4 linked regions of the Homo sapiens genome follow. The protein of the gene in region 2 interacts with the protein of the main gene of each other region in a pairwise test. Each region holds a gene or a part of one and is shown on either strand. Other genes may lie near its edges.

Region 1 (7,226 bases), on a different chromosome or scaffold from region 2:
CTGCTAAACTGGATTCAATTAAAATCCTCAACTAACTGTATTTCCTCCTTTTCACGTTACTTTAATGGGTTATTAAAGACAAGAAAAGTCGCTGTCAAGATTTTTTGTTTTTGTAAAAGGCAATTTCCAGGGCTGCATAATATGGTCAGTACAGTCAATCAAAACTTTGATACTCTGTAGAGCTAACACAAGAGAGTAACAAGCAGCAGCTAAGGCACCATAAGATCCTGAATCACATAAGATGATTAAGTTCAAAACTTAAATACTGAAACAGTGAAGTATACTTACACTATTTAGATAGATAAGTTAACAAGGATTGAAACTAAAATGATCTATTTTCTAGATTCTATACAATGAGAAAAAAAAAAGTCTTACTTAGAAAAAGGACCAATGTTGAAATAAAGCGTGAAAGAAAAAAGAAAATTCTATCCCAGATTAGAATTCTTCAAAATTAAGTCTTATATACTAAAAACTACTAAACTATACACTTTAAATGGGTGGATTTTATTGCATGTGAATTATATCTCAAAAAAGCTGTTAAAAAAACTAAGTTGTATACAACACAAAACCTTAAGCTTCTTTAAAAACTATGTTTAAACACACATGTCATAAAGTTTACCATCTTAGACACTTTTTTTTTTTTTTTGAGACGAAATCTCACTCTGTCACCTAGGCTGGAGTACAGTGGAATGATCTCGGCTCATTGCAACCTCTGCCTCCCAGGTTCAAGCGATTCTCCTGCCTCAGCCTCCCGAGTAGCTGGGACTACAGGCATGCGCCACCATGCCCGGCTAATTTTTGTATTTTTAGTAGAGATGAGGTTTCACCATGTTGGCCAGGCTGGTCTTGAACTCCTGACCTTGTGATCTGCCTGCCTTGGCCTCCCAAAGTGCTGGGACTTTAAATGTACAGTTGAGTGGTATTAAAAACATTCATATTGTTGTGCAATCATCACCATTACCATCCACATCCAGAACTCTCTTCATCTTGCAAAACCAAAAACTCTGTACCCATTAAGCAATAACTTTCCATTCCTTCCTCCCCTTAATTTCCGGCAACCACTAAACTTAAAACTTTTAAGTGTTTAGTATAATGTGAAATTCTTACCAGATTATGTATAATATTTGTTAAAGTCCAAGCAACAGGAACACTGAAGAAGGGAATGCTGAGTAAGACAATATGAAGCAAGCCAACTCCCAATGCATATGTCAGCCACATACCCCGGCTGTTCATGACACGGGTATTTGGATTCACTTCACTGTGGGCAACTCCAACGTTCATGTTTGCTCTGTAGGAAGTAATGAAATGAATCAACACTGATACAACTGGCAACCTAACACCCCCAATTCTGACATGACAAGGTACCTGTGTTGCGAGGATTATTTTTTCCTAGTTACTTTGAAGTAGCACACAAACACCATCCAAAATATGCTACTTGTAGATGCTGATGACAGCAGTAAAGAATCTTCAGCATTTGACTTTAGGGTAAGACAAGACTTGTTATTATGGTTCTATTTGAAAAAATAGTTACAATGCCTTTCCAAAAGTTTGTTTTCTAGCATGTTGTTTTACTGAATAGGAAAATTCAAACTGAAAGAGAAAACCTACATTTTCTTATATCATGAGAGCAAAGTGAAAAGCCAAAAGCTAAATTTACCAACATAATAAATTTATATTAAAAAGAAAAAGCAGAACTCACCGAGCCAGTGTGTCAAGTAGTCAGACTCTTATATTTGACTTAATGTATCCATAAAGAATGGTCAGAGTTCAGATCACTTCTTTCTGAATACTCAATGTGGAAGGTACATGCTGTTGACATAATGTGGTGTAAAATTTACATGGTCAAGGGATAATGTTTGTTTCTCAATTTTGTGATTAAACTAGGTGAAAATAAGGAGTCTTCTGAATATTTCTCTAGTCAAATCAAAAACTTCAGTTTTCTTTCTTCTTTTTAAAAAAGGTTTTCCCTTCTCCTTTCCATTGAAGATGGACTCCAAAGGAAGAATTGATAATAGTTCTCAGTTCTTTTAATGATGGTGTTTACTTGAGACTAAGAATTGCTTAAAATAAAACTGTCCTGAAGAACACCTATCATCCGACGGAGGGGGAAAACGAGGCTAGATTATATTTGGAACAGCTGTGATTTTAAAATACACAAACGCTTGTATTACGGAGTTAGCATACAGAGAGGAATTTCTCATAACCCCTTCCAGCAAATGTTTCCGGAGTATAATGCTCCTTCCGCTCTAGAGACCCATAGAACAGGCATCAAGGGTTAAGGGGACGAAAAGTTAGTTACACTAAGACCGCTAAAGCCTCCAATTTATATGTGTAAATCTTTCGTCTAAACACCCATGATTTATCATACATTAAACTATTATGTCATACTTAGAACATGCCAACACTCAAGATAGTTTTCCCACGTTCCACAGGATGGAGGCCTGAAATTTACATCTCAGCTGGAAGGCAAAGCTGGTGCGGTACTCATCCTATTCCAACCAGAAAACCTTTTCCCAGCAGGTTTGCCGCGCTGCCCACGACTGGCAAACAATGACCTTACAGACCGTGAAGAGGCTGTTGGCTCTGCCCTCGCCGGTGCCTCCGAAGACGGCGACCCGCAGCGGCCCCTCAGGGGAGTCCCCCCTGCTAGACCGACAGCCCGAGCGCTCTGGGCCAGAGAAAACTCAGCAAAAGCCGCCGCTGCTACCACCTCAGCGCCTCCCCCAACCCGCCCCTTCCTTCTCGCGGCCGCACGTCACGTCAGGACCCTGGCAAGACAACGAGGATTTGCGTAGGGGGCGAGCCTCTGAGGCCACTTGGCTCTTACGGCCACGCAGGGCGCCGCAGATGCAGCCGGAGCCCGCTTTTCCCTCTCAGGACGACCCCTAGGCCGCCAGCAGTTCCCTACCGACGAAGGCGACTGTACAGCGTCCACCGCGTTCGTGCCCACTTACCCGCCGCCCCACTCCGGGCCGCCGGCTCGCAGCAGGACCAGCCCGGCTGCTACGGCCGCGGATACACGCCCTCAGGCCCGGCGCTGCGCAGCTTGCGGAAGCTTTCCCGGACAGACTCGCTGCCAGCGGATTGGCTGCGAGCAGCGCCAATCTCACGTTGCCCCCGGGCGAGGCGGGACTCAGTGCCGCGCTCTCTGCACCCGCTCTGCCGCGCGCGTGCGTGCTGGGTGCGGGTGCGGGTGCGGGGTTGGGCCTGCGCATCGGGTGAGACGCTGGCTGCTTGCGGCTAGTGGATGGTAATTGCCTGCCTCGCGCTAGCAGGAAGGTAGTGTGGTGTGACTAACGGGTATTTATTATATCCTCGATGGCTCGAGGGCCCCGTCCCCTCTACTCGTCCTGGTCCGGGCGCGAACGCTATAGGGCAGCTAAGGGCGCTCCCCGCGGGGCGGGAAGCGAAGCCGGGCTTGCGGGCGCGCACACGTGGAACGCGTTTTCTGAGCAGGTCTGGGCTCCGGGGTGTTCTGGCTTGGTCTTTGTTGCGTCCCATTCCCCAGACCCTTCTGGGTGGAGGACTTAAAATTTGTTTTCCAGGCAGCAGATTTAACCCATGGCAACTGTAACTCATCTTGTGTGAGTGGCGGTTTATAGTATTGTATCCTGTGGCATCATACAAGGGGTGCAAGTTAAACTCTTTAAAGTTAATCACGATTTTTGCTCTTGGCCTTCTGGGTTTATCCGTACGCCGAAGACAGGCACCTGTATTACATGCTAAGGAAATGTGAATACCAAAAATTGATCCTGAGGAAAGTCTTGATTAGGTTTTTTTGGAATCGCCTTTGAAATGTAATTTCCCTCACCTTGGCAGTGCAGAAAGTTTGTGATTTTTATTGCCGAAATAGCTTTCAACATTTTGAAATTGACTTAAGAGAATGTTGGCTGTGTATGTCTGTATCTTGCATTTCTGTTGGCTTTGTGAACCTAATTGTTTTGGATTTAGTCTGATCTTTAAATAAATGATTTCTTTGTGTTCTCTCTAATGGAAGTCTGTGAGTTCTCTGATCTTTACTTCTTTTTTAGGCACACCTGTTGTCCTTAACTGACTTTCCGGGTCATCAGCACTTCTTCAGAAGTGTTCCTTTTCCCTCCCAGCAAATATGGAAGACTGACTATCCTGATATTCCCAGACATTCTTTGCTGTGATTTGTAAGCCCGATATAAACCCTTCCATTTGGTACACATATGGTATAGAGTGCTATATTCCAGGGGCTATGCTAGCGATGTGTGATTGATATAAAACCCCTGTCCTCAAAGAACTCTGAGTCAGGAGCAACAGACAGAAACACATATTAATAGAGTAACTTGTGATGAGGTTAATTAGAAATGAGGTAAAGGGGGACTGCAGGGGAAGGAATACCTAATCTGTTGGCAGGTGAAGGAAAGGAGGCTGCAGCAGGGAAGAAAGGCTTGAAGAGTTGATACTGAACTAAATCTGGAAGGATGATTAGAAGTCAGCTGAGAGAGAACCATGTGAGCTGAGGAAGGAGTGAGTGTCACCATGTTAAGAGAGACAAGTTGGCTGGGCACGGTGGCTCACACCTGTAATCCCAGCACTTTGGGAGGCCAAGGCGGGCGGATCACCTGAGGTCAGGAGTTCGAGACCAGCCTGGCCAACATGGTGAAACCCTGTCTCTACTAAAAATACGAAAATTAGCCGGGCGTGGTAGTGCGCTCCTGTAATCCCAGCTACTTGCAGGGCTGGGACAGGAGAATTGCTTGAACCTGGGAGGCAGAGGTTGCAGTGAGCCAAAATCGCTGCACTCTGGCCTGGGCAACAAAGTGAGACCCTGTCACAAAAAATAAAAAATAAAAAAAGACGAGCTGTGCAGTATGATCGCCCTAGAGCACATTTGGGCAACGATGGGATGACTGGGAGAGGAGGCAAAAATCCAGTTGTTAAGAAGTTTGTACTTAACCTGGTTGGCAATTGGAAACCTTTATAAAAATTTTAAGTGGGGCAGCAACATGATGAAATTTAAATACAGAAAGAACCCTATAGGTGGTTGAGATTCGAGTCAAAATATCAATTAGGTGGTTATTGCAGTAGTTCAGGAGAGAAAGGCCGAATGGAGGCAGTACAAAGAGGAGAGGACTAGTTTGGGAAACATTTAGATAGTAGGAGAGAGATGACTGGGTGGCAGGATGTAGAGAGCGAGTAGAATTTCTAGGATGACTTCAAGGTTTCTAATTTTGCTTTATGTGCTTGGATGGAAGGTGTTTGAGAGCATGGCCTTTGGAGTCAAACATGCCAAGGTGTGCATCTGCCACTTAATAGTTTTGTGATCTTGAGCAAGTTACCATGCCTTTAAATCCTATTTGGTGATAAAGGATGATAGAATACGTAGAGTTGTTGTGAGGATTAAATAGGATAATATATATAAAATTCTCATGTTGGCTATTACTTTTATTATCAAACAAGAAATATAGGAAGAAAGTTGATTAGAGGCCAGTCGTGGTGGCTCACGCCTGTAATCCCAGCACTTTGGGAGGCCGAGGCGGGCGGATCACCTGAGGTCAGGAGTTTGAGACCAGCCTGGCCAACATGGTGAAACCTTGGCTCTACTAAAAATACAAAAAATTAGCCAGGTGTGGTGGCGGGCACCTGTAATCCCAGCTACTCGGGAGGCTGAGGCAGGAGAATCGCTTGAACCCGGGAGGTGGAGGCTGCAGTGAGCGGAGATTGTGCCATTGCATTTCAGCCTGGGCAACAAGAGCGAAACCTGAAACTCTGTCTCAAAAAAAAGAAAGAGAAAGATTCTCTGATCAGTTTGGGACATGTTATGTTTAGGTTGCCTTCAGGTCATCTAAATGATGATATTTAGAAGGTAGATGGAAGTAAGGCCCTAAAGTCCAGAAAAAAAGTGTGAGATACAGGTGAGCTGGAGGATGGTGTGGAAGCCAATTGAAATTATGTATATAAAGGGAAGGAGGATACTTTTTCTAATGTTTGCGTTAGCATAAGAAAGATGCTGATAAATTATATTTAGTGGTCCTTCATTAATATTCATGAAGTGAAGGGCTTGCCATGGGTGAAGCATTTGATTGTTCTGCCTGGCATCCAGAGATACATAATACATAATTTCCTACATTCAAAAGTTGTACAGCAGGAAAAAAAAAGTTTTACAGTTCAGGACAAAGATGTAGTAGGTTTAATTATACAATTTAATTAATTTAATCTTTACAGTTATCTTACATTGATTATAGGACAAAATGATATTTGATATTTTGAATATATTAGATTATCCAAATACGTAATTAAGATTAACTTCACTTTTTTATTTTTTTTTTAGCTTTTTTAATGTGAGTACTAGAAAATTTTAAATGATGTATGTACATTATAGTTCTGTTGAACAGTGCTGGATAGAGTACTGGTTAAAATGGCAGGCTCTGAAATCACGCTACTTTGGTTTTATCCTAGCTCTTACTAACAGCTATATGATACTGAGGAAATTAAACTTTCTAAAACTCAATCAGCTAATCTATAAAATGGAGACAATACAGATATCATATGCTTATGAATTTGGTAGAGACACAAATATTCAGACTGTAGCAATTAGGAGAGAAGAAAGATGACATGACATGGAAGAAGAGTATGAAAAGAGATGCAGACATCTTAAGACCAGAGGATGCAATGGGATGGGGTAGATAAAGTGTGACAGAATTCATGCTATGAATTGCCATGATCTTAGTAAACTAGAAGAATGAGGAATATTGGGATGCAATTATAGAGATTTAAAAAAAAAAGATCTTGGATTTGGCATTGTAGGAGATGAGGTATTATAGGAAACGAGACAAAGATGATGAGATTAAGACTGCTCAGAAGGAGTCAGTCTAAGTTTATACCCCAAAGTTTTGTTGATCAGTGTTTTTCTTAGATCCTTGGGATTTCCTAGCTGAGGTGGAAGACTTCTTGAACCCAGGCCTAATGTGTGAGCCCCTTTGGGGTAGGGGTTAGAGGTGGGGGGATTGTTCATTTAGGGGTTTAGAGGAGCTCAGTTTAGTCCCAGTATCCTGGGATGTTTTTAGCACTTATATGCCAAACACTGTAATACATTATTTATATATACTACTTTATTTACTTCTCACCACAATCATATGATATCATTATTAGATCCATTTTATAGATTAGGTGATTGCATTTTAGAGAGTTTAATTTCCTCAGTGTTACATATCTGTTAGTGTAAGAGCTAGGATAAAACCAAAGTAGTGTGATTT
Region 2 (3,655 bases):
CACTTTTTTTCGGGGCGGGGGGGTGGTTTGAGGGGGGTTGTGGTGGTGATGGCTTGAGGCCAGGAGTTTGAGACCAGCGTGGCCAACATGGCAAAACCCCATCTCTACAAAAAATACGAAAATTAGCCAGGCGTGGTGGTGCAGGCCTATAATCCCAGCTACTCAGAAGGCTGAGCGGCAGGGCGATAACTTGAGGCCAGGAGTTTGAGACCAGTGTGGCCAGCATGGCAAAACCATGTTTCTACAAGAAATACAAAAATTAGCCAGGTGTGGTGACCTATGCCTGTAATCCCAGCTACGTAGGAGGCTGAGGTATGAGAATCGCTTGAACCTAGCAGTTGCAGTGAGCCAAGATCGTACCACTGCACTCCAGCCTGGGCACAAAGCAAGTCTCAAAAAAAAAAAAAAAATCTGTATTGACAATGTCCCCAAAATCATATTAGAGCAGACATTTAGTGTCCACAGCCTAAACTTTTTAAAGTATATGATAAGATTATAATTAGGACAATTTGGGACACGACTAATATTTGAAAATACAGAACAGTACTTTTCTCTCTTCACAGTGTACCAAACAGAAATATTTTTTGTTTAAAATGTTTGCAAAAAGTAACATGCTATAATAATGAGTGGTAATAAATACATAATAAGAAGTCATAAAAATGTTCTGAAAATTTAAGAAGTAGGACCTTGCCTTTAGATCAGTAGTAGTCTTAAATGTCAACAAAACCTTTTATGACTATTTTTGTAAAAGATTTTGTAAAAATTCTACTTCCCAGATTACCAATCCTTTTACTACAGCTCAAAATTACAGGGCTGCATTGTAATATCTGTAACTATGGTTTCCATTTTATTTTGGAATGGAAACTTCTGCAACTCTAACATTACACCAATGTCATCTTGCTTTACATCACCTTATTAGAATGTTAATGCACTTCAGAATGAAAGTGTGCCATATATTTTCATTTCAAAAACACCCACAAACTAAAATAGATATTTAAAATCTTTATTGTTTCATCATCAAAAGTTTTCTTTCCATAGAAGAATGGTAATATTGTATCAGTGCATATTCTATGGAAAATTCATATCTCAAGTAACTAGCCTAGAAATCAGAGACAGCACTATGTCAAGCTAGTATACAAGGTCAAAGACACAATGCTGCCAATGCAGTTAGTATATAGAAATAATACGCAGCTGTTAGAAAAAGTCTGTGGCCAAGTGGATAAAACAGTAGCAGTGCACTGCACTGACATCCAGAACAGAAAATAGGGAAGGACCAGAGAATGCACTTCCTGCAAAAAAAAGTCCAGTAGATCACAAGCACAAAGAGTTCCCAACTGTCTCACCAGCTCTCTAACTCATGTGTACCTGCACCTTCCTCTTGAAATCTGAACATTATAATACCACAAGCCACTTTCAGCCTCCAGTGGGAAGGCTCCAGCCACACGCCGATATTTCGTCCTGCTTCCCGTCATCTCATATCTAAAAGTCATGGCTTAAGTTAGGCAATAAAACCTGTGGCTTTAGGCATCTTTAGTAAAAAAGCTGAACAAATCCCAAATTTATTCCCATTTTCTTGAGAAATAAACTTCATAAAACAACAGACAGCTGTCATGATTACTGAGTTTTGGCTGATGGCGAAATAATTTTTATGTAAGTATACTGAATAAACATACAAACAAATATCCTTAACAAAATACTGTCAGACCAACTTGAATGTTTTTATAACCCACTCCTGAAAAAAGTCCTGATAATTATTAGATGTAAACGACCACTATAAATTGATCATGCCTGGTTACTGGGAATTTTTTGGTCAGGTATGTTTCTGAAGCTGCTATATAGCTGGACTTGGCTACTTTGCATTAACTCACACAACAAATGCCTTTTATAAGGAAACAGCAGATCTATCATGATGAACTCAAAATCAAAACAGTTCAGAGGTATACAGGAAACTTGTCTTAAAAATACTTTTAAATTACATATGATATAACCTTAGAGAATAAGAACTACTATTACCATGGTCTAAATCTTAAACTGTTAATGCATGAATTATCTGTAAGACTAACAAGTTACTTGTTAATCATGGCAAGGCCTTGCAGGGGAGGGGGCACTCTGAATGTACGGCATAGCAATTATTTTCCAGGTAAGTAAACACTTCTAAGTGTTATTAAACTATATTTGAAAAGTTATTTTATGTAATATATACAACATACCAAATAAGTCAAAAGGAGGAAGCAGAGGAAGGTTTTCTGGCATATATGATGCAAACATACAACTGTCCCTCATCAGTAGTGGTTCCATGTATGTCCATTTTAACAGGGTAAAACATGAAAGGTTGATAGGAGATCACAAATTTCACTTATAAATAGAAACAGGATTCAAAAACTGGAATTTCAATGTCATTTCTTCCCACATTGCAACTCACTCTAACAATAATAAACATAAATAAAAACCTTATCTCAAAAATGTTTTTACACCCTTACCTTAAAGTTTAACATAAATTCTTCTAACAATTGAGAAGAAAAGCACTCCTCTGTAGCAATTCCATAAAATAATTTTCAATCCACAAAACATCTGTCTACCAGTAAAACCAACAACCCTTAACGGAGGGCATGGGCATTAACACTTGGCCCCTCTGAGGTATAAATGCAGCTATATTTGCACTGAGTATACAGTCTATAACGTATGCCAACCGTCTGTATGTCTGCATAACATTGGGAGTGATGTCATCCTGACTGACTGAAAACTTATTTTTATAATTTTTTGTAATAATGGAGGCTAAATAATTTTAAGAGAAAAGATGTACTTGACCAGTAATAGAGCCGGCGGAATTCTGAATTCCTAACCAATGCAAATGATTACATTAAAAAAGTGTTTAACATTGCATATTGATTCCAAAAAAAATCAACCTAACAGGAAAAACACATAAATATTTAAATTCAGCAGGACACCACAAAAAGCATACTATAGATAAGTGTGAAATCAGTCAAGCTTTTCCAAAAGAGAAAATCCTTTTAATCCTTCAGCAAGTCTCTGTGAAAATAGTATGCTTACAATAAAAGTGAGAAGGGAGCACCTAAAATACCCCCAAGAGGCTTGCTATACCATTCAGCATTAACTGCCCCATCTCCTGTGTGCGTGAATGGCCAACAAATGACAGGAAGTCCATTTGACAATAGTTCAGTAATTTCTTTTCACCACTGCTGCCAGCTGAAGTCGTCATTGCTTCCAAAGACCAAGAAAAAGCCTAGTATAGTTGCAAAGATGACTGTGTTTCCTGTGAGAACAAGTGCACAAGCTCCCCACTCAATCTATGGAAATAAGATACACTCAGTCAACAGGCATGAAAAACGAAAGGAAAATAAAAAAAAAAATCAAGGCTCTAGTTGTATCCCAATTATGATCTAAAAGAAGCATGCCTTGTAACAATAATTGTCACAGTGCTGAACACATACTTATAAATATATATAGTATAAATATATATAGTAAAAAAATATATAGTATAAATATATATAAATATATACAGTATAAATATATTTATAGTATAAAAGTGGTACTTTTATACTAGTATTTTCATTTACCTTTGGTTCCTTTAAAAAGAAAGTCATGAAATGACCATTCAAAAACAAGCTTGACTTCTGGGCTATGAAGAAGCAGC
Region 3 (7,038 bases), on a different chromosome or scaffold from region 2:
AGTATAGCTCAATGCTCAAGAGTTTGCATGGGGAAGTCAGGCCTGAGTTCAAATGATAACTTCTATTTTTTGGCTTGTGCACCTAGGACAAACTGTTGAGCTACTCTAAACTTCAAATTTATTGTATGTTAGTCTAGGATAATAATAAAAGTAGCAACTTTGTAAGGCTGTGAGTTTTACAGGGGAAGTGCATGTAAAGCCCTGAGCACACTGCCTGACCCAGAGTTCTCAGGAAATGCTAGAGAGGAATTAAGCAGGTAATGTGCCCAGTGCCACGTGAATGCTATAGGTAGAAAGTGCTACAGGAGTTGAGAGGAGGAAATGGACACTGTGGTGGAAGAGATGGGAGAGCTCCAGTGGAGAAGGCAGAGTATGCACTAAGCTTAGAAAGAAAAGCAGACCTCAGATTAGGAGGTGAGAAGGCATTCCTGGCACGGCGAGCCAAAGAGCAGCAGAGGAGGACTGTGGATGCCTTGCCTGTAGACTACTTTTGCTGCCACTCTTTGTATATTTATTTTTGCGTATGTGCTCAAACATTTTCCCAAATGCAAATTGAAGATATTCATCTCTAGAGATGCTTATTTTCTCATTTGAAAAAACTGTGCTCCCTCTCTCTTTTCCATGGCTTTTTGCTAAGTCTATATGGCATCTATAATTTTGCTTATGGAGTCAGCTTGATTAAACCATTTTGGGTCAGCATGGAGAAATAGGTTACAAAACTGGCTGTGCATCATGATCACCCAGGGAACTTTTTAGTCCTGCAGATTTCTGTGTCCCACCCGAGATTCTGACTATTGGGTCTGATGTGGGACCAGAGAATATGCATTATTTTAAAAGTTCCTTTAATTTTCATTTGGCTTGGTCAAAAGTTTGAAAAACACTGGTAATCTTTAAGGCCCCACCCAGCTCCAGTGATCTGTATTTCCCATAACAGTAACATTTTTATTCTCTCTGCTATTCTCAAGAGAGGGTTACTGTGTTGTCAAGAGAGAAAAACTAAACAAGCCAGACATCAAAAGCTATAGCTACCAACTTTGATGTGAAGAGTCCTTTCTATATGAAATTGTATAATTCCAAAAAATCCAGGTGGGAGTGTTCCAAGGTCCTTATGCTGACGGGAAGGAAGGACAAACACTGGCCAACTTTATACTTTGTTAAACATGTAAGTCGAGATTTAATAGAGTCTACAACTTCCAAACCAGTGGAAGGGGGAAAATGAAACCAAAGGAAATGAAAAAATAAAAGATCTCAATACGAAAAAAGAGAGGGGGAAAAAAGCGAAACATAGAAAAAAATGAAACAAAGAACAAAATAAGATGCTAGAAGTGAATTCCAATATATTGATAACTAAAATCAGTGCAAATCACGGTACAGTTAAAAAACAGATCAATCTAAACAATATGATGTCTAACATTACATCCGTATATTGGAAAACCATGAGAAAAAGCAAGAAGATGATTAGCCCAAAATGTATGATACGTTTATCTCAACAGGAGAGAGGGCTCCTGGGGTGGGCACCCAGGAAGCTCTAAAGATACGATAGTGTTCTTTGAAGTTTCTTTAAGTTCTTTAAGTTGGGTGGTAAGTAGACAGGTATTCTTATTTTTTTTATTCTTTTAAGCATTATTTTTTAAAGTTCACTATATTTTTTGTAGTTTTGTTTGAATAATATAATACACCCCCCTGGCATGCGTGCATCGCACACACACTCAAAAAAGGATAAAAATAAATTGCCAATGTTTTCCTAAAGCCCCACTCTCATATTATTAGATGTGAATTTTTAATGTGATTTTTTGTTCTTTAATGACGTGATTTTTTTGTCATGAAAGTTTTCTCCCCAGCACAAAACTCTGTTTTGAATTAATCTTGTGACCCAACACTCCAAACAAGTCTTCACATTGATGCTTTTTGTCATAATACGATAATTCCTATATAGTTTCCCTTTTCGTTGAATTACATAAAATAATTCATTCAATTAAAACCTTATAAGCTTTTTATTGAGCAATGATCTTGTGTCAGATGCTGTTTTAATCATTGTATATGAATTAATCCATTTAATTTTTATAAAAACCCTTGGGAATGGTACTAATCCTGCCCTCATTTTAAGCCTGAGGTAACTACAGCACAGAGAAGTTAGGTGATGTGGTCAAAGGCACACAGCCGATCAGTGGAAGAGCCAGGATTGGAACCCAGGCAGCCTGGCACCAGAGCCATGTTCCTGACTTTGTGCTAGGCTGCTCAGCTGTGGCCCGTAAAGCATCTTACTACTGAAGAGAGTGAAGGAGGAGTAGGAGGGTACCTCTGGACTTCAAGGGCCCCTCCGTAGTATGTCATGTCTGACCATAAAGCTACATATATCACAATTACATCATTCTTTGGTTGTTAAAGGAAAGATTTTTTTTTTTTTTTGGCCAGGAAAGGAAGAAAGGGAGGGAGAGATGGAAGGAGGGAAGGAATCCAAAGGAATCCAACAAAAATATTGGCTGATTGGCTGGCCGTGGTGTCAGAAGAGAAATAAAAATCTGCTGATCTCATCTTTATGCTGTTTCCAATGAACAACAAAAGGCAAATGTTCTTCGACAGAACAGCACAAACATACTAGGTGGCTAAACTAGAGAACAGGTACTTCAGAGATGTTGCCTTAAGCAGATGCTCCCCGGCAGTGACCCTGGGAAACAGCTGTTCCAAGCCTCCTCCACCTGGAGGCCAAGATCTCTCTCCAAACACATCTCAGAAGAGATGCACAGTTTATCTAACAGTTCATACTTTGAGGGGGTTTGCTCTATGTTAGCAGTTAAACATAAGTCCTCCCCACGCACCTCCACACCCTAGGCTCTGTAGTCTTGGAGAATTCATAGAGAATGTGGAGATGTCAGGAACATTCAAACAGGTAACTGGACTAATTCTTAAAAGTGAGGGGTGTGTGTGTGTGTGTGTGTGTGTGTGTGTGATAGATCCTGGAAAATATTTATCACTTAGTTGCCTACCAATCTACATAAATCCAGAAGAAAAAAACTAAAAGGAATGTCTTTTGAGTATTTAGCCTCAATGCTCAGACTATGACTGCTGGGAACCAGCAGGGTTCAAAGAAGAGTTTGTGTGATGCCCAGATTACTTTAAAAAAAAAATTCTCAGCATTAACAAATATGAATGAGTGTCCAGAGGTACGCATCTGGGAACTAGTAGATAAAATTCAATATGTGTCTCCTGGAGAAAAGGCTAAAGAAAGACAGAAAGCGTTAACTGTCTTCAAAAACCTGAAGGGCATCACATAGAGAAAGCACAGACTTTTCCTGGGCTATTGCAGAGGATCACACAAAACAAATGGAAGAGTACAACAGGCAGAGTTTGGATGCAAGCCTTCTTTTCAAGTAAATGAAGATATTTATATATTTTTTTGCTTTTTACTTTTTTGGAGATGGAGTCTTGCTCTATTGCCCAGGCTGGAGTGCAGTGGCACAATCTCGGTTCACTGCAACTTCGCCTCCTGGGTTCAAACAATCCTCCTGCCTCAGTCTTCCAAGCAGCTGGGACTACAGGTGCCTGCCACCATGCCCAGCTAATTTTTTGCATTTTAGTAGAGACAGGGTTTCACCATGTTGGCCAGGCTGGTCTCGAACTCCTGACCTGGGTGATCCACCCACCTCAGCCTCCCAAAGTGCTGGAATTATAGATGTGAGCCACCACGCCCAGCCTAAATGAAGTTATTTAAGAGAAGAAACCATTGTTCAGCAGTTGAAGAGCCTCCCTTGACCAGGGCATTTCCTTTGCCTGGATTGTTCTGAGATGTACAAAGGGAAGGCCTTTTTCCTATGAATGAAAGATCAGGCTAAGCGGCTTCTGAACTCTTTTCCAAGTAGGAAACTGCCGAATTCTGTGAAACTGTGGCTTTTAACTCTCCATAAAACTCAAACAAATTTGACTTGTTTGTTTCTCAGACACAATTATCGGGTGGTATGGCTAAAAACTTACTAATATGAATTCTCAAGTTGGTAGTTGCAAACTTGGCTGCCCATCCAGTTCCTTCACTTGTTTCAAACCAGTCTGAATAAAACAAAAAACCAGTCTGAATCTGTCACATTGATTGCACACCCACTAACAAGTTCTGACCCACCACTAGAAAAACTCAGACCTAGCCTAAAGTCAGTCCTCAGTTTACAGCTGAGGAAGCTGAGCCCAGCGCAATGACATGGGTCTCCCAGAGTTGTACAGTAAGTGAAGAATTAGAACCCAAATCTCTGATCTCTTATCTCCAAGTCCAGTTCTTTATTCACATATATCAGCCAGACCGAAAATAATAATACAAGGTGGAGAAAAAAGGGAACCACTGCTGAACCGTAATTATGAAATAAGGAATTCAACCCCCCTGCTAGCTACTAAACATATAGATATTTTTTGTGGAAACAGAGCACCTCATGATAACTGCTGCTCAGTGAACCCACCACAGTGTTGGGTACCACTTTCCATGACCTCTGATCCTCACAACTACCACCTCACATAGTTGGGTTTATTAACTTTATTGTATAAAGGAGGGAATGGAGGCTGAGAAAAGTGAAGTAATTCCCATAATTCGGGTCACTCATAGGTTGAGCTGTGCATACATGTCTGACCCCAAAGTTCGTGGCTCTTCCCTGCCTTACACTGCCTCTTTATAATCCTTGTCTTTCCCTGCTTGGTATTATATCTCTTAGAAGTAAGATAAAGCAACAAGAGAAATACTATGCAGAACTAATTCTAACAAGTAGAGTAGTTGGTGATATCATCTATAGACTTGCTTGTTTGTCGTCTTCTCTGTTAGTATTTTAGCTCCCTGAGTGCGTGGCCTTCACCTCACTCACTGTCTAGTACAGCTCCTGGCACATTGTTAGCTTCAGATGAATATTTATGAGTGGACAAGCAAGTGCATTTAGAAATGACAAGGACATTCGCCGAAAGCAACCACATCATACTACAGAGGCGGGTCATATAGTGGCCCAGGGCACAGCCTGTGGAGAAAGACGGCCTCTGTTCAAAATCGTGTCTCTTAAGAGTTATTTGATCATAGGCAAGTTACTTAACTTCTCTTGTGCCTCGGTTTCCTGGGGATAATAATAATGCCAATGTCATAGTGTGGTCCTGTGAGTTAATCAAGGAAAGCGTTTGCACCAGTGCCTCGCTTATAGTAAGTGCTGTATAAAGATGAGTCGTTATTGCTATCTGAGGTTATGATAATAGTAGGGAAATAGTGGACCCATGTCTTAATGGGAGAAAAATATCATGAAATTTAGAGATAAGGTAAGTATGATGCTGTGGCTAGAGACTCAGAAGAGACTACGGTTCATATTCAATTGCAGAGTCTGAAAAGTAGATTTTTAACTATCTCATCATGAAAGATTTATTTCTGACCAAAAAATCTAAATGTAGAGCAGATGATTATGCAGATGGCCCGTGAATATGTCAAAAAGAATATAGTGCTTACTAAGCATCCACATGAATTTATGAAGAATGAAATTTATGAGCAGGTGATTTGGTTAAACTACTAGAAGAATGCCGTAGACTCATTGTGTCTTATTTTCAAGAGCACATTTAGAAAATCTGATTTCTGTAACAGCAGAATGTAGGGTGAAGTATGGGAGCCCTGGAGTCAGAGAGTTCTCCTCTCATCTCCCCCTAGAATTGGGCCTTGGTTTTCTTATCTGTCCAATGTGGATAATGAGTGCAACAAAGCCTCCCAGTGTGGTTCAGAGAACTAACGGAGATCATGCATGTGCACTGCCTCCTAAGCAGAATGTAAATGTGAGTCTCTCATAATCACAAGACCTGGGTAAGCAGAAAAGAAAGTGAAATGAAATGTGATTGATAGTCAAGGAGGTTCCCACCTATTTGCCTGTACCAAGCGTAGGTCTCAAATGCTCAGATGGTAGGTGGAAGTTTGCCTTGCAGTTGTCAAAACAAATCATGAGGGCCCCTTGATGCCACTGGCTAAAGGCTGGGAGAGAAGAAAACCTGAATAAGTCCCCTAAGGTCTGAGCATCTGTTGCCTCCTCTTCTCTCCTTGCAGGGGCGTTTGTGGTATGCTGGACCCCGGGCCTGGTGGTTCTGCTCCTCGACGGCCTGAACTGCAGGCAGTGTGGCGTGCAGCATGTGAAAAGGTGGTTCCTGCTGCTGGCGCTGCTCAACTCCGTCGTGAACCCCATCATCTACTCCTACAAGGACGAGGACATGTATGGCACCATGAAGAAGATGATCTGCTGCTTCTCTCAGGAGAACCCAGAGAGGCGTCCCTCTCGCATCCCCTCCACAGTCCTCAGCAGGAGTGACACAGGCAGCCAGTACATAGAGGATAGTATTAGCCAAGGTGCAGTCTGCAATAAAAGCACTTCCTAAACTCTGGATGCCTCTCGGCCCACCCAGGCCTCCTCTGGGAAAAGAGCTGTTAAGAATGATTACCTGTCTCTAACAAAGCCCATGTACAGTGTTATTTGAGGTCTCCATTAATCACTGCTAGATTTCTTTAAAAAATTTTTTTTCATAGTTTAAAAGCATGGGCAGTAAAGAGAGGACCTGCTGCATTTAGAGAAAGCACAGAAACGGGAGAGGTTCGGCGGGTCCCTGCTTGTCCTATGAACTGCTCAGAGCTCCTGTCAGTCCAGCTGGGCCTTCTGGGTTCTGGCACCATTTCGTAGCCATTCTCTTTGTATTTTAAAAGGACGTTATGAAAGGGCTTAGACCAAAATAAATCATAATGTTACTTGAGCCACCTTATATAGCTGCTTGGAGAGTCTATGTAGTTCTTTCTGCATGCATTAAAAATGTTTAGAAATGCTTCAGCAATGGTGTTTTTTTCCTCAAAGAAACCATGGCCAGTAGCTAGGTGTTCAGTAGGAATCAAAGAAAAATCAGTAAGAGCTCCAGATTAAACCTGATTTTTAACTGAAGGAACATTCTGAGGAAAAATACTTAAAAGTAAAAAAGGTCAATGTGAAAACCCTTTTTGACCTGAAAAAGGCCTTAGTATGGTCCTCCATGCATGTGTGTGTATATGCATGTGTGTGTGTG
Region 4 (7,034 bases), on a different chromosome or scaffold from region 2:
CGAGGCTGAAGTGGGAGAATCACCTGAACCCGGGAAGTTGAGGCTGCAGTGAGCCGTTGCACACTGCACTCCAACCTGGGCGATGGGAGTGAGACCACTGTCTAAAAAAAAAAGATTGTAAAGAGGTTGTTGGGCTATATAATATAAAAGGCACTGATAACACTGGATTTTCATATAATTTGAAACATATTCTTAAATTCTCACTTATTTTCTCATAAAAATTCTTACAAATATCTTTCTTGGTATAATAGTTTTTTTCCTTTTAACAATAGTCTCACTGATTGGTGGTGTATATATGTATTTTTTTAAGCTACTTGTTATCCATTCAATAATCAGGACCACCTAATAAACTTTTGATGTTTTGTGATTATTAGATGCTAAATTTTGGGGGCTATTTCTTATATCACTATTCTGCCTCATTGATCTATATGTTTCTCTTTTGCACTAATACTATATGACTTAGTGTTGCTCTAGGAATGTATTAATATCTGGAAGGCCTAGTATCTACTCGTTGTTCTCTTTTCTAGAATTTTTTTTTTTTTTGAGACGGAGTCTCACTCTTGTCACTCAGGTTGGAGTGCAGTGGCACGATCTCAGGTCACTGCAGCCTCTGCCTCTCGGGTTCAAGTGATCCTCCCACTTAAGTTTCCCAAGTAGCTGGGATTACAAGTGTGCGCCACCACGCCCAGCTAGTTTTTGTATTTTTAGTAGAGATGGGGTTTCACCATGTTGGCCAGGCTGATCTCGAACTCCTGACCTCAAGTGATCCACCCACCTCAGCCTCCCAAAGTGTTGGGATTACAGGTTTGAGCCACCACGCCGGCCTCTTTTCTAGAATATTTTCTATTTTGCCCTTACAGTTTTTCAATGCTAAATTTGCTGATTCTTGAAAACCTAGAATTTTGATTATGAATGCATAAAACTTAGCTTGGGATAGCATTTATTATATTTAATCTTCACATATAGGTTTATGATATGTTCCTCTACTTAAGTTTTTTATACCAACCTTTATGGCCACTTGGAAAAAGGATAAGTAGAATGGGAAATCAGAAGCCAGACTGCATGCAGCTGGGTAAGGAGTTAACAGAAGACCAAGAAATGGAAACAATTGAGAACATTTTATTCCTTTGAGGCATTTGGAGAAGAGAAAAATGAAAGATAGGGTATATGAAACTGAAAGAAGAAATTTTCAGGAAAGGAAGAATTTATGACTATAAACAGAAATAAGCCAATGGGGAATGACACTGAAGATGAGAGAGGATACTTGATGGAAAGAGAAAAAGATCAGAAGGTGCTAGGGATAGGAACAAAAGCATGCGTGGTAGGAGGAAAGATGCAGGAAGATAACAGGGAAAAGGTGAAGGAACTGGCTAATTGAGCCAAATACCCTAGATTAGCGTGCTCAATTATATTTTAGAACTAACTTTGATGTACTGTGCAACATCTCTACTACTTTAAATAGTGGGTGGCTATCACAGTGCAAGAGGACACATCTGTTCTATTTCAACAGTTAAGTATTAGTCTCCTAACTCACCTCTTTTCCCTTATACCCATCTAGTGGCACTTAAACTTGTTTACTTAATTGGCAAAGGCTTCATACTGCAGTAATTTTGCTTCTAAGGAGGCATTTTTCTGTGTTGGTTTCCTTTCCCGGCCAGAGGCTGCCATAGAGTGGGATGTGGGACTGAATTTGGAAGCAGGGTTGGAGGGGTGTGTGTTGATTAATAACCATGGATGGATTTCATCCCGTAAATTGCACAATCCCCACCTCCAATCTATCAGGCCGTTTTTGTGAACCTCTGAAAAACGGTTTATGATTATACACTTGCTTAAACCTAACTGTTCCATCTGCTATCGGATAAGACAAGCTTCATTTTTTTCTTACATTTGGCTGTACTTACCACAGGTGCTTTAGGGCTGGAGGTGAAAGGATGCAAGTAACAATCTTATTGTGCCTACAAGATTTATAATGTGGGATGCAACAAAATTCTGTTATGTTCTTGCACGGAAATACCCTCAATGGGGAAGCACTGCTGATACTTAAATGACGATTGAAGGATTGTACGCCTGTATGCTGAGCTACAACGATGACATACGATCCCAGTTTTACATTTACGTCTTCATCAATTTGAGCAGTCGTTATGTTTCCTACTATTCTCTCCACAAGAAAGGGGGAGGTGCGTACTCCAAAAATGTGCTCAACTAAAATGTTTCCCATTTAAGGTGGTTATTTCTGGCACTAGGAAGACAGTTAAATATTTGTTAATGATTCCTTACTCATTTTTAAAACCTTCGGAGTTACCCCTGTATGGACATATATAGAGCCCCACCCACATAGCCCACGGCTGGGTATCAGCCCCCATTTCCCTTCTCTCGCCACTGCCAGTAGTCTACCAAGTGAACCTGCCTCATCCCAAAGATAATTTTGCTTCATGAGCCCACATATTTATTCTTCTTCATAATGAGTCGCTTTTGAAAAGCCCGTGCAGCAACAGCCTTGGCCAAAGGAACAGCGTTCTGCTTACAACTTAGCTCATCTGGGGGCCTATTTGCCCCTGGAACTTCAGGACGCTCCTAAACTATACTTGCCCTTCTGCAAACACCGACAGTCGGCTCGCGGCGCCCCACCGGGACGCTCCCCTTTCATGGGCTGTAAGCCCAGCACATGCTGGAGTTTAACACGGTTCCTGCTGGATGCGCACAGAAGCCCTGGAGCCAAGCAGGCGTGTGCGCGTTTGGGGCTGGCTGTGTGATGGGTTGAGGGTCGGCCGCACAGCCCACGGAAGCATCAGGAGACCAGCGCCGGCGTACGGTGCGGGCTAGGGCAGAGCCCCAGACTCACCTGGCAGCGCTGCCGGCCGGAAAGCGGAGAGGGACGCGAAGATCAGCAAATTCGCCAGTTTGGATCCTTGTCCTTTTCCGCCCTTTTCCCCCCATTAAATCCAGAACCCGTCACATGATAATTAAGAAAAAACTTCAGTTCCGCCTCCTCAAACGACTGCGGTAGAGGATCTCTCAGTTCTACCTCAGTGCCGCGCCCACATCCGGGGCTGGTTCTCACCGCCCCTGAGCCTACCCTATAGGTAGAGAGGACGCCAATCTGGATTCAGAGGTCCCTTTTCCGCGGTAATTGGACCATTTGTCCGCCAGTGCAAACCAACCGACCTTTCCTTACTTTCGGGTTCGACAGAAAGGCGGCAATAAAAAGACCCATTGGTCCCGCCTCTCTACTGTCACGGGTTAGTAGGGAAGTCAGTCCAAGATCAGCCTGGAGTTTCCGTGCTCCCATTGGGCCCACAGATGTTAATCAGAGCAGCCGGCGCTCAGCTCCGCCCTCTCGGGACGCCCCGCCCCTCCTCCCATCCTCCCTGCCCGCGCGCAGTGACTGCAGGCTCCGGCGCAAAATCCTGCGGGAGAGGGGGTGGGGCAACCCTCTGGAGGCAGCGCGCCCGCGGGCAGCCTCGTTGTGGCTCCTTGGGCTCTGTTGGCGGCGGCGCTAGCTTCGGAGTCTCCCGCGCGCACCTCAGCCGCCTCCTAGCGGCGCGGCGCTCGCTCCTACGGTAAGAGCGGCATCACCTCCGCGCTCGGGTGGGCAGTGTGGAGGTCGTCGAGTTCTGACAGAATTTCGAGGATGGATCGGGACGAGGGAGGAGAGCGGTCGTCGGGATGGAGGTGGGGGCTCCGGGGCCAACGCGTCGCCCTCCGTCGCCGGCGACTTTCCCGGCAGTCTCCCGTACCTGAGGGCCGGGGTCAGCCGCGACCCCTTCTCATCAGTCGGCCGGTGGCGGAGGCTCAGCCGCCTTCCTCCCGAGCTCGCGCGGTCCTCAAGTCTTGATGGTGACGGGCCGAAGCCCAGCGCGCCACCCGCCCCTCGGGCCCCGCTTCCAGGCCCCTGTCCTTTGCTTCCTTCCCTTGGCGCTGTGCTGAGGGGTCGTCGGGTCCTGGAAGGGCGTTCAGGGGTCTCGGGTGGCTAGCCCGGCTGGCGGGGAGATGTCAGCTAGCGGCCGGAGGAGCGGGCTCGGGAGGGGGCGGCGGCTCGCGCGCTGGAGGAGGTGGAAGGAGGGTCGCTGCCCTGCCCCCTCTGAGCAGGCGGCAGTCGAGTTTTCTGATCCCAACACGGCGGAGTGGGTGCTTAAGGCATGGGCCTTAAGGGATAGTTCCCGTCTGGAAACAATACCGTGCTCCATCAGCATGCTTCAGCTTTTCTTATTTTTATCTGCCCAGTGTTGACAGCCAGCATTCTGGTATTGTCCTTCGAGTCATGGCTTTCTAACTCAGCACCTCCTTGTGTAACTTCAGGGATCATTCTGTCACTAATCTGTCACCCTTCTTATTTTTAGCGTGGCGAAAACAAGGAACTGCCTTATACTAACCTGGGCAGTGCAGAATCTGGAACAATTTATTAATCTCAGTGTGTACTTTACATGCCAAGTAATTTTGAAATTCATGGTGAATATTAAATATTTTGTAGTTTTCGGTTGCTTTCTTTGTTAATAGTATATCCTCCTTGCTTTGAGACTACTTTTCAGGTGTGATACTTTAATCTTAAGGTTTTTGGTTAGCTTTTGCCATTTTTAAACGTTTCTTTCATTTTTTTTTTCTCCAAGACTTTGGCAAGAGACTTAGTATTTGATCTTGTTTTCAGGTATTTTTGTAAAGTTTATTTTCTTTCAAACTGGGCTTTTTTCACCATATTTTTAATATTGGAAGGGGAATTCTGAAAGTCTGGAAACTGCACACTTTAGCCTAAAGAGTCACAAAACAGTATAACAATTTGAAATCCTAACTTGGATATGGTGTATGGACTGCAAATTTTAAGAGAAGGAAATGGATATGCGTTATCAGTTGTAGTGGCTCCACCTCCATAACGTAGAGGAGAGGAATCTGGAGGTCTGCGGAGAATGAGCCATGTCTGGGGCCAGAAACAGTGGTTCCAGGAAATATTTTTGCCCCAGAAATAGCCTGCCTCCCACACAGACTGGCTGTCTGAATGCATCTGATAGTTTTAAGTTAGGTGTTAGTGAGGTGGAGAGTTTTCGTGTTCCAATTTTGACCACTTTCTGGTGGAGCATGAAAATGTGGTGAGTAAACAAGTATAGTATACAATGGGGGCACTCTTGCATAGATAGTCAAGCCTCCAAGAGTAAACTTTTTTTGAGCCCAAACTGGCACTGGACAGTTGGCCCTAAAAATGAAGAAGGTGGCCCACCCAATTTTTAAACCATGAACTTTTTTTGGCTGGTCCATTTAATGCAAAATTGCAAGGAATATGTAATGAAAAAAACCTTCACTAAACTGAAGAGAATTTAGGGTGTCATGTGGATAAAATGAAACTCGAAAATAGTTGGACTACTTGTATATTATTTAATCATTTTAGTCCTGTGAGATGGGTACTGATTACTGTCATTTTATAGATGAGCAAACCAAGACTTAGTTTAACTAATTTGTTCAAGATTTCTTCACAAATGAGTCAGTAGAGGTGAGATTCACACCTAAGCAGTCTGATTCCAAAGCCTACATTCCAAGCCATTATACTTTATTACCACAATAAAATTGGCTTCTTGGAGACTTTATAGTAGGAGACTACTCAGTGGAAAATAACACTGCAAAACCGTAAATTGAATCCACTATTGTACACAGTAACACTTTGAGATCATTGTATAATAGGCACTGTTGGATTTTGCTGAAGATAAAGGGATGGAGTCACCTTCTCTGTGTTTGAGGAGCATTCATTTGATGGGAGAAATAGATATTTGAACAAATGACGATAATACAATATATACAGATTGAGCATCTGTAAACTGAAAATCTGAAATGCTCTAAAATCTGGAACCTTTTGAGTGCCAAGATGATGCCACAAGACACTTGACTTCATGTGACAGGTTACAGTCAAGCTGGGTGCGGTGGCTCACGCCCGTAATCCCAGCACTTTGGGAGGCCAAGGCGGGTGGATCACCTGAGGTCAGGAGTTCAAGACCAGCCTGACCAATATGAAACCCCGTCTCTACTAAAAATACAAAAAAAATTAGCCGGGCGTGGTGGTATGCACCTGTAGTCCCAGCTACTCGGGAGGCTGATACAGGAGAATCGCTTGAACCCAGGAGGTGGAGGTTGCAGTGAGCCGAGATCGCACCACTGCACTTGGCCTGGGTGACAGAGCAAGACACCGTCTCAAAAACAAAAACAAAACAAAACAAAAAAACAGTCAAAACTTAGCTTCATGCACAGAATTATTTTAAAATGTTATATAAAATTACCTTTGGGCTATTTGTATAAGGTGTAAATGAAACATAAATGAATTTTGTGTTTAGACTTGAGTCCCATCTCTAAGATATCTCTTTATGTATATGCAAATATTACAAAATCCAAAATCCAAAATGCTTGTGGTCCCAATAATTCTTGAGACAAGAATTCAGTTAAAGTATAGACAGTCTGGATTTGAATTCCTATCAGGCTTTGTGACTTTGAACATAACACCAAACCTCTTTTAGCATCAGTTTCCTTATCTGTTTAATGGAAAGGGCAATACTTCAAAGAAGACATTAAGCCTTAAATAAAATATATAAAGTACGGGCACATAGAAAGCAGTGAATACAAAAGAAACAATAAATAATTTTAAGAGAGAACTAGTTGGGTTTCAGGGGAGCTACCACTGAAGCCTTAAAGGTCTGAAGGTGGTGTTTGTAGGTGGAGAAAGAGGGCATTCCATGCAGAACAGGAAGAGGCAGAGTCTCAGAACAGAAATATGGATTGTTTAGGGAATGGTAAGTAATTGTAGCTTTGTATAAAATGTATGTGTGAAGGCCAGCTTTAAATGATAATGGTATGTAAATGTGGTTGGGCAAAGTGAGTACTACCCAATTTTGATAATTGGAAATTGCATACTTAGATACTAAAATTATAGGAAAACCTCAGCAGTTTGTCCATTATTACATGTTTATTTAATATTCACCTTCCAATACTTACTTTCCCAGTTCAAATTAAGACTCAAAGAAGAATTCCAAAATGATGGTTGCCATCCCTTAACCCCTTTA

What was found.
Region 1: the proteins of LEPROTL1 (region 2) and ORMDL1 interact in binary tests that used the Homo sapiens proteins (3 or more experiments, as listed by UniProt).
Region 3: the proteins of LEPROTL1 (region 2) and LPAR3 interact in binary tests that used the Homo sapiens proteins (3 or more experiments, as listed by UniProt).
Region 4: the proteins of LEPROTL1 (region 2) and TMEM60 interact in binary tests that used the Homo sapiens proteins (3 or more experiments, as listed by UniProt).

The regions. Positions count from the first base shown.
Region 1 is NC_000002.12:189,781,315-189,788,540, forward strand, and holds the start of ORMDL1 (ORM1-like protein 1), read right to left. Parts: upstream 3,026-7,226; 5' UTR 2,955-3,025; exon of another isoform or gene 1,810-2,954; 5' UTR 1,700-1,809; exon of another isoform or gene 1,289-1,699; 5' UTR 1,282-1,288; coding exon 1,108-1,281; intron 1-1,107. UniProt on the Homo sapiens protein: Plays an essential role in the homeostatic regulation of sphingolipid de novo biosynthesis by modulating the activity of the serine palmitoyltransferase (SPT) in response to ceramide levels.
Region 2 is NC_000008.11:30,105,399-30,109,053, reverse strand, and holds the end of LEPROTL1 (leptin receptor overlapping transcript-like 1), read right to left. Parts: intron 3,309-3,655; coding exon 3,192-3,308; 3' UTR 530-3,191; downstream 1-529. UniProt on the Homo sapiens protein: Negatively regulates growth hormone (GH) receptor cell surface expression in liver. May play a role in liver resistance to GH during periods of reduced nutrient availability.
Region 3 is NC_000001.11:84,813,174-84,820,211, reverse strand, and holds part of LPAR3 (lysophosphatidic acid receptor 3), read left to right. Parts: intron 1-6,040; coding exon 6,041-6,366; 3' UTR 6,367-7,038. UniProt on the Homo sapiens protein: Receptor for lysophosphatidic acid (LPA), a mediator of diverse cellular activities. May play a role in the development of ovarian cancer. Seems to be coupled to the G(i)/G(o) and G(q) families of heteromeric G proteins.
Region 4 is NC_000007.14:77,795,412-77,802,445, forward strand, and holds the start of TMEM60 (transmembrane protein 60), read right to left. Parts: upstream 3,024-7,034; 5' UTR 2,843-3,023; intron 1-2,842.